Linked DNA regions of Homo sapiens. The protein of the gene in region 2 purifies or fractionates together with the protein of the main gene of each other region. This does not show direct contact. Each region holds a gene or a part of one and is shown on either strand. Other genes may lie near its edges.

Region 1 (3,803 bases), on a different chromosome or scaffold from region 2:
CACGTAGCTTCCCAGACCCTGTGCCCCCATGGGAACCTGAGCCATCTGAGGGCTGTGGACAGAAGTCTCCAGGCCCCACTTTTAATCACAGTGAGAGTCACTCAGGGGAGGGCGGGATGTTGACTTTGGAGAGTCCAGTTTTGCTATTCGGTTTTGTGGTTGGTGTCATCTCTCTGTGATTTTAGAAATGAAAAGAAAATTAGTCTGGACAGAATGAGGGAAGAAAGTTCAAGCGTCCCAACCCTGTTCTTGGCATCTTTTATTTCTTAAAGGCTTAAAGTCTCTTTAACAGCCAAAAAACAAATCGAGGGCGGGGTGGGGATTGGGGGGAATTCAGGGGCTGCCCGCAAAACCCGGGCCAGGACCCATCGCTTTGGTTGTGCATCATGTTCATCACCGCCGGACGTTCACCGACATGTTGGAGCCGCCGTGTTTGGGGGGCGAGCTCTGGTCCGCGCTCCACTCTGCCTCGTCTGTGCCCAAGTTCTCGGCACTGAGGCTTCCCTGCTCTCCCAAGGCGAGAAACGCCCCAGGGCATCCCCCTCCCTATGGGAGGCCCTGCACAGGGCGGGTCGCTGTGGTTGAGAGGGCCTCTGGGAGACGTGGTTCGCAAGGCGACCACGGGTGTGAGGGCACGGGGAGTTCAGCCCTATCCGGAGTTCAGGCACAGCCCCTGATGTCCCCGAAACCTAGAGACAGCAGGTGGTGTTGGGGGGTTCTGAGGGTGGAGTGTGGGGGTCCCCCAGAGGTCCAGTGGCAGCTCCTTGGGGAAGGACCTCCCCTCCCAGCAGGGGGTGCAGGGCAGGGCGTCTCTCCTGTTGCCCAGGAATCCATCACCCAGGCGGGGCAGGTTCCCGGTGGCCAAGGATTCTCCCGGTTTATGTGCTGATGATCCTCGGTGTTGGGGAATTGCAGACAGGTCATGAAGTCGGCAGCCCCGGCTTGGACGCCATCGGCTGGCTTCTAACCCTGTTTCCCTTTCGACTGAGGCACAGTGTCCGTGTCATCAGCTGCCCAGATGCTAAGGGGAGAGCTCACGGGCATTTGCCGTGTGTCTGAGCACAAGGGCCAGCAGTGGGGAGGCCCGGGAGGCAGGAGGCAGGGGTCCTTGAGTCCTGAAGGTCAGCACAGGATGAGGGCCTGCAGCGCTGGGACAGCCTTGAGCAACAGGAGGGGCTGGGAGGGTGGCCTGGAACAGCTCCCACTGGCGGCCAGGCAGGTGCACACAAAGGGAGATTACTGGCTCATCAGCCAGTGTTTGCCTTGTCTTTACCCTGCGGAGGGAGTTCCCAGGTGGGAGGGCTTTCCGACTCCTGCCAACCAACCCTTTCTCACGTCTTTCTTGATGATGTCCCCTTTCTCCCTGTCCCCTTGACACTGGACATTTGAGACAGCCTGTGGCCGAGCTCACTGGCCTCAGGGACAAGAAAGGAATCTGGGGTCACCTTTCCTCCTGGTGATCCAGGAATCCGCCTCTGCAGGAGGAGGACAGACTCAGAACCGGCCCCTCAACCTCCCTGGCGCTGCGGTTTGGCACCTCCACCCAGCAGAGCCCTGTGGCCCCAGGGCCTTCTTGACCCGAGGACACCCTTCTTGGTTCTGGCCAGAGCCCTTGCTTTGGAGATTTGGACTTTTTATACGGGAAGTGCTTGGATTTCTTACTTTAATTATCTCTTAAGTTGTAAATTGTGTACATTTTTGAGACATTTTGTGAATTGTGTACATTTTTGAGGCCTGTAGCAAAAAACAAGAGATGTGATTTGGGGCTTGGATATAGAGGCAAGGCAAAATAAGACAGAGACAGAGAGGAATAGAGAGAGAGTGGGCTCCACCTGGCCTGGCCTTGGCCCTCGCTGCCTGGAGCTTGCTCCTGTGGCAGTGAGCAAGGGTGCCGGTGTCCAGCCCCTTGGCCAGCCCTGCAGGAGTCTCGTGCTGTCACACCAGTGTCAAGGGTAGCAGGGCACAGTGGGGAAGTTCAGGCCTTTTGTTCAATCAACAGGCACCTGTGGACTCCATGGTGTGTCCCGATCTGCCTGCCACGAGCTGAGAGGATGACTCTCACTGGGAAGAGAGTGAGGAGGCTCTAGAGGGTGCATGTAGTCCCCACCCTGCTGGGTTCAGGGGAGCCTGTAGCCAACGCCAGAATCTCCCCTTCCAGCAGCAAGATGCCGGTCCTCCAGCAGACAGTCATGTGCCAGTCAAGGCTCTCCAGAGAAGCAGGACAAGTAGGACGCGCACGCACACTCCTGACAGATGTATGCGTATGTGTATGTCTGTATACACGTATCCTTCCGATCCCATTTCTCTCTACAGATAGTGTGTGTGTGTATAGATACATAGAGGGAGAAAGAGAGAAGCTGATTTATTGTAAAGAACTGGCTCATATGATTGTTGGAGGCTGGCAAGTCTCAAATCTGCAGGGCAGGCTGGAGACCCAGGGAGAGCCACTGTTGCCATCTTGGGTCCGAGGGCCATCGGGAGACGGAGTTCCTTCCTCCAGAGGGGACCTCAGTCTTTCCCTGTTAGTCCTCCAACCGACTAGACAAGGCCCACCCACAGTATGAAGGTCATCTGCTTTGCTCAAAGTCTACTGATGTAAATGTCTCCCTCCCTCCCTCCCTCCCTCCTTCCCTCCCTCTCTCCCTTCCTTCCTTCTTTCTTTCCTTCCTTCCTTCTTTCTTTCCTTCCTTCCTTCTTTCTTTCCTTCCTTCCTTCTTTCTTTCCTTCCTTCCTTCTTTCTTTCCTTCCTTCCTTCTTTCTTTCCTTCCTTCCTTCTTTCTTTCCTTCCTTCCTTCTTTCTTTCCTTCCTTCCTTCCTTCATCTCACTCTGCCACCCAGGCTGGAATGCAGTGCTATGATCATGGCTCAGGTGGATCCTCTGGCGTCAGCCTCCTGAGTGGCTGGGACTGCAGATGCATACCACCACAGCCAGATACCTTTTGTATTTTTTTGTGGAGTCGGGTCTCATTATGTTGCCCAGGCTGTCTCAAACTGCTGGGCTCATGCAATCCACCTGCCTCTGCCTCCCAAAGTGCTGGGATTACAGGCATGAGCCACCACACCCAGCCTGAGTGTCGCCTTCATCTTAAGAATGTCTTCACAGTGACATCTAGACTGCTTTGACCATACAGCGGGGCACTGTGGCCGGGCTAAGAAGGGTGCGCCCATCACCAGAGGTGATGATGTCTGCTGTCCCACTGCTAGGGGTGCAGGGGTTTAGGGGGACAGTGATGATTTTGAGAAACAAGTGGTTTCATCTTCTAGATCGGTGTTGCCGCAAGTATTGTTCTCGTAGTGTTTGAGGTTAAGTCCTAGGAAGTACTAAGCTTAAGGAGTTCATTTTCTGTCCTCCTTATTATGATTTGAGATGGAGTTGGTAAGGATACAGTGGGGTGATTTAGGTAATGAATGTACAAATAAAAGGCCTTTTGCTGACCTTACCGAGGCAAAGGTAACCCCAGATCCTTTAGCGAACATTGCTAAACATCTGCCACTCATGCTGCAAACACTGAGTTCAAGCTCGAGTACCCAAATAGTGAATTCGGGGGAGTCAGGACCAGAGAATGGTGATCTAGACCTTTTCACTCGGCATTTGCTTAGACCGGGCATTGGCAGACTTTTTCTGTAAAAGGCCACATAGTAAATATTTTGACTTTGCAGTACGAAAGCAGCTATGGACATGATGTAATAGAATGATTGTGGCTGTCTACCAACAAGATTTTATTAACAAGAGCGAGTGGGTGCTGGGGTTTGGCCTGGGGCCCTGGTTTGCTAACCCCTGGCTCTGAGGGTCCTTGGCCTGT
Region 2 (4,133 bases):
GCTGAGGAACTACATCGCGCAGAATGCCATCGAGGCTGCCGAGCGCGGGGACTTCTCAGAGGCAAGCACACGCCTGTCCCTGTGGTCCCTGGGAGGGGGGTCGGCCCCAGACCCCTCTCACCCTCCTGATCCTCCAGGTGCGGCGGGTGCTGAAACTACTGGAGACCCCTTACCACTGCGAGGCGGGGGCCGCCACAGACGCCGAGGCCACGGAAGCCGACGGGGCGGACGGCAGGCAGCGCTCCTACAGCAGTAAGCCCCCGCTCTGGGCAGCAGAACTGTGCGTGACATGATCTTCGTAACGGCCTCGGCACGCTCCACACCCCTGGAGTCTCCCGAGGCCCCCATGTGCTGCTGAGTGGCCAAGATGATGCCAGGCTGCCCTATACACTGGGGGATTCTGCCCTGGCCCATGCACACCCGTCTTTCCATGATGGCAGAGACATCCAGTCAGGACCTGACCCGTCTCTGTCTGAGGCCGGCTCAGCAGTGCAGCCTGGTCCCTGGGGGCTGGACCCAGGCTCCTAAATAAACCAGCAACTCCCTCGAGTCTGTCTCTGTGGTCATTGTTCCCCCACCCTGCCCTGTCCTCAGCCCCCACCCAGGAGAGAGAGCTGCAGACAGGGTCCGAGAACACCTTTATTGTGCACGTCCCCCGCAGAGCAGCCTCAGGCGTCCTGGTAGTAGTTGTTGAAGTTGATGCGCAGCAGAAAGTCCTCCAGGTGGGGCTGGTAGCCGCGGTTCACCAGCTTGGTCACCACTGGGGACCAGCGAGCAGCTCAGGCTTTTGCCCACAGTGTGAGCCCCGCCCTGGCCCCCCCGCAGCCCTCCCAGCCAGGGTGGGCCTCACCTTTGAAGAGAAAGTGGGAGTAGTACTTGAAGGTGTTGTAGGACTGCTGCATGAGTGCAAAGTTGGGGTGCTCTGCACCCCGCGGGCCCCCAGGGGGCCCCCAGGCCTGGGAGATGAGCTGGCTGCGGAACTTGAGCACGAGGCTGAAGATGCTGTGGATGACGTTCATGACGGGCGCCGCCTTCTCCGTGAGCAGGCCCCTGGGGGGAAGCAGTGCTGCTGGGTGGGCTGAGCCGTGACCACAGGGACGCAGCCGCTGCCCAGGCCTCACCTGAAGACGGCCTTGTGCAGGTACTCTGCGTGCGCACGCTGGATCTCCTCCAGGTCGCCCACGGTGGCCAACCTGGCCCTGAACTCGCACCAGGTGACGTGCAGGATCTGGTTGGCGATGTAGCCCTGGATGACCTTCACGAAATGCTGCATCTCGTGCTTGAACAGCTGCAGCTGACGGAACTGCACAGAGCCGGCCATGTGGCTCAGCAGGGCTGGCGGAGGGCAGAAGGCAGAGGGCAGAGGTGAGCGCAGCCTCCAGCCAGGGGTGCGGGGCGCCGGGCTCCAGCGGGGCCTCACCTGTGCGCTTGAGGTGGAAGCAGACGTCCTTGAGCGCCCACATCATGAGCTTCAGCTGCAGCAGGAAGGAGAAGACGCCGCTGTACTTGCTCACGCAGCCCTCGGTGATGACAATGTTGAGAGGCCAGTCCACCTGCCAGGAGGCGTGGCTCAGCAGGCATCCCACAGGCAGGCAGGCCCCTGTCCCATCCCCCGCGGCCAGGGCTGCTGCTGACCTTGTACCTGAGCTCCAGGCAGCTCAGCACATCCGGGGCGTTGGGGGCAAACACCTCGGGCAGGTACTTGAGAGCGAGGGAGAGGTTGGAGGCGTGCGGGGTGTCCCCATGCAGGCTGCACTGCAGGGCCTTGCTCAGCACAGAGTTCAGCACCAGCGGGTTGAGCAGCTCTCCGGGCGTTTGCCCAGCTCCAAGCTAGGCAGAAAAGGGACCACCGTCCCCAGGAGTCCCAAGCACATGCCTGGCACTCGCCGGCACCCCATGGGGCTGTGCCAGAGCAGCAGGGGGCTGTGGGCGTGCAGCCAGTCTCTCTTTTCCCACGGCCTCCCCTCTACCACTGGCCCCACCCCGTGTCCGGAGGCCACCTTCTCAAAGAGCAGGTCGCTGAGGGACTGGGCGAACTCGCCGTCCTCCATCAGCAGGAAGTGCCGCAGTGCCTCATAGTGCGCCTCCAGGTGCAGCTCCACGAAGAAGTAGTCGACAGCGGCCTTGTTCACCAAGGAGATGCTGGCAGGAGGGAGCTGGAGTCAGGGCGGGCCAGGACGGGCTGGGTGGGCAGACTGGCGCAGGGGCAGGGGCACTCACTGGGCGGCCAGCGGTGCCGTGATGGAGCGCTTCATGAGCACGGGCAGCGTCAGCAACTCGCTCAGCTGCACAGCAGTCTCATCAGCGGCAGACTGGACCTGGGGGTCCACGGGGAAGGCGAAGGCCCGGGGAAGCACGGGGCGCAAAAGATGAGCAATGGGCGGCTCGGCTGCGGGAGATGGAGCACGCACGTGCTGGGAACCGGCCAGCCCAGGGCTCCGCCCCCATCCACAGGAGATGGAGCACGTGCTGGGAACTGGCTAGCCCAGGGCTCCGCCCCAACCCACAGGAGGTGGAGCACGTGCTGGGAACCAGCCAGCCCAGGGCTCCCTGCCAACAGCAACTGCTGCACTCACACATGGACTCGTAACTGTCCGGGTACCGCTCCAAGTGGTACTGCCCTGCCAGGCCTGCCAGGTAGGCCTGCTCCCCACCCTGAGCCTCCGCCGCCGATGCCTCCGCCTCCTCACCACGGCCTGGGCTGCTCTGGGCAGCTGTGTCTTCCTAACAAAACACCAGCCTCAGAACCACCTCCCCACTGCACGCTGTCCCCACAACCAGCTTGTGCCAAAAAAAGGAAAATCGCATGTGGGACCCACCCGCGTGACAACCTAGAGGGACAGAGCCCTCCCTGCCTGCTGTGGGACCCCCAGGCTGCATCCACCTAACCTGTGAGTTGAGAGGCCAATTTGGAGAGAGGTCCTCAGTGTCCCCGCTCCTCCCAGGGCCTGTGTGGACACAAGTGGACACGAGGGCATCAGGGCCGAGTGCCTGTGGCGGGTACAGAGCCGAGCCGGCCCTGGCTCAAGCAGCCCCTCCCATGTCCCCCACAGCAGCCCAGGTCCTGGCTGACAAGGAGGCCTGAGGGGAACTTCACATGCCACCAACCCCACTGCCCGCCTACCTCCCAGGCTCTGTGCGTCCCACAGTCCCACTCCTGACCACCAGCCACCCTACTCTGACCTAGTTCTTCAGAGACACTGTCTCCCGGGGTGTTGGGCCACCATGGTTGGGTGGGAGCCACGTCTGACACGTTCTCCCCCACGCTGATGCTCCCCTCCCCGCAGCCCGAGCTGGGGGAGGACAGAGATGGCCCCACTTCTACAGGCAGCCGTGGCCCACAGTCCAGCACAGTGCTCTGTGCTCCCAGGCTGAGCGCTGACTGGGACGTGTGGCCAGGGGGGCTCTGTTGGGGCCTGGGTGTGTTGGGCTCAGCTTCTGGTGAGAGAGCCCCCAGCACCATGTGGGGCGGAGGGATGGGTACATGGGTGTTCCACCGTGGCCGGGTGGAAACCACATCCGACACAGGCTCCCCCAAGCTGATGCTGGCGTCGGACACGTGTCCATGGGTGTTGCACCGTGACCGGATGGGAGCCACGTCCGATACGTTCTCCCCAACCCTGATGCTGGTGTCAGACACATGTCCGTGGGTGTTCCACCGTGGCCGGGTGGGAGCCATGTCTGACACAGACTCCCCCAAGCTGATGCTGGCATCAGACACGTGTCCATGGGTGTTCCACCGTGGCCGGGCGGGAGCCATGTCTGACACAGACTCCCCCAAGCTGATGCTGGCATCGGACACGTGTCCATGGGTGTTCCACCGTGGCCGGGTGGGAGCCACGTCCGACACGTTCTCCCCAACCCTGATGCTGGCGTTGGACACGTGCCCGTGGGTATTCCACCGTGGCCTGGTGGGAGCCACATCTGACACATTCTCCCCGACCCTGATGCTGGCGTTGGACACATGTCCATGGATGTTCCACCGTGGCCGAGTGGGAGCCACATCTGACACAGACTCCCCTAAGCTGATGCTGGCATTGGATACGTGTCCGTGGGTGTTCCACCGTGGCTGGGTGGGAGCCACATCTGACACATTCTCCCCGACCCTGATGCTGGCGTCAGACACGTGCCCG

Evidence for each region.
Region 1: the proteins of TUBGCP6 (region 2) and FRMD1 purify together in Homo sapiens (co-immunoprecipitation; one large-scale study listed by IntAct). This does not show direct contact.

The regions. Positions count from the first base shown.
Region 1 is NC_000006.12:168,069,208-168,073,010, reverse strand, and holds part of FRMD1 (FERM domain-containing protein 1), read left to right. Parts: intron 1-3,803.
Region 2 is NC_000022.11:50,217,068-50,221,200, forward strand, and holds the end of TUBGCP6 (gamma-tubulin complex component 6), read right to left. Parts: coding exon 3,184-4,133; exon of another isoform or gene 3,125-3,183; intron 2,949-3,124; coding exon 2,890-2,948; intron 2,725-2,889; coding exon 2,577-2,724; intron 2,390-2,576; coding exon 2,221-2,389; intron 2,143-2,220; coding exon 2,001-2,142; intron 1,831-2,000; coding exon 1,636-1,830; intron 1,554-1,635; coding exon 1,421-1,553; intron 1,336-1,420; coding exon 1,122-1,335; intron 1,051-1,121; coding exon 851-1,050; intron 761-850; coding exon 669-760; 3' UTR 627-668; downstream 1-626. UniProt on the Homo sapiens protein: Component of the gamma-tubulin ring complex (gTuRC) which mediates microtubule nucleation.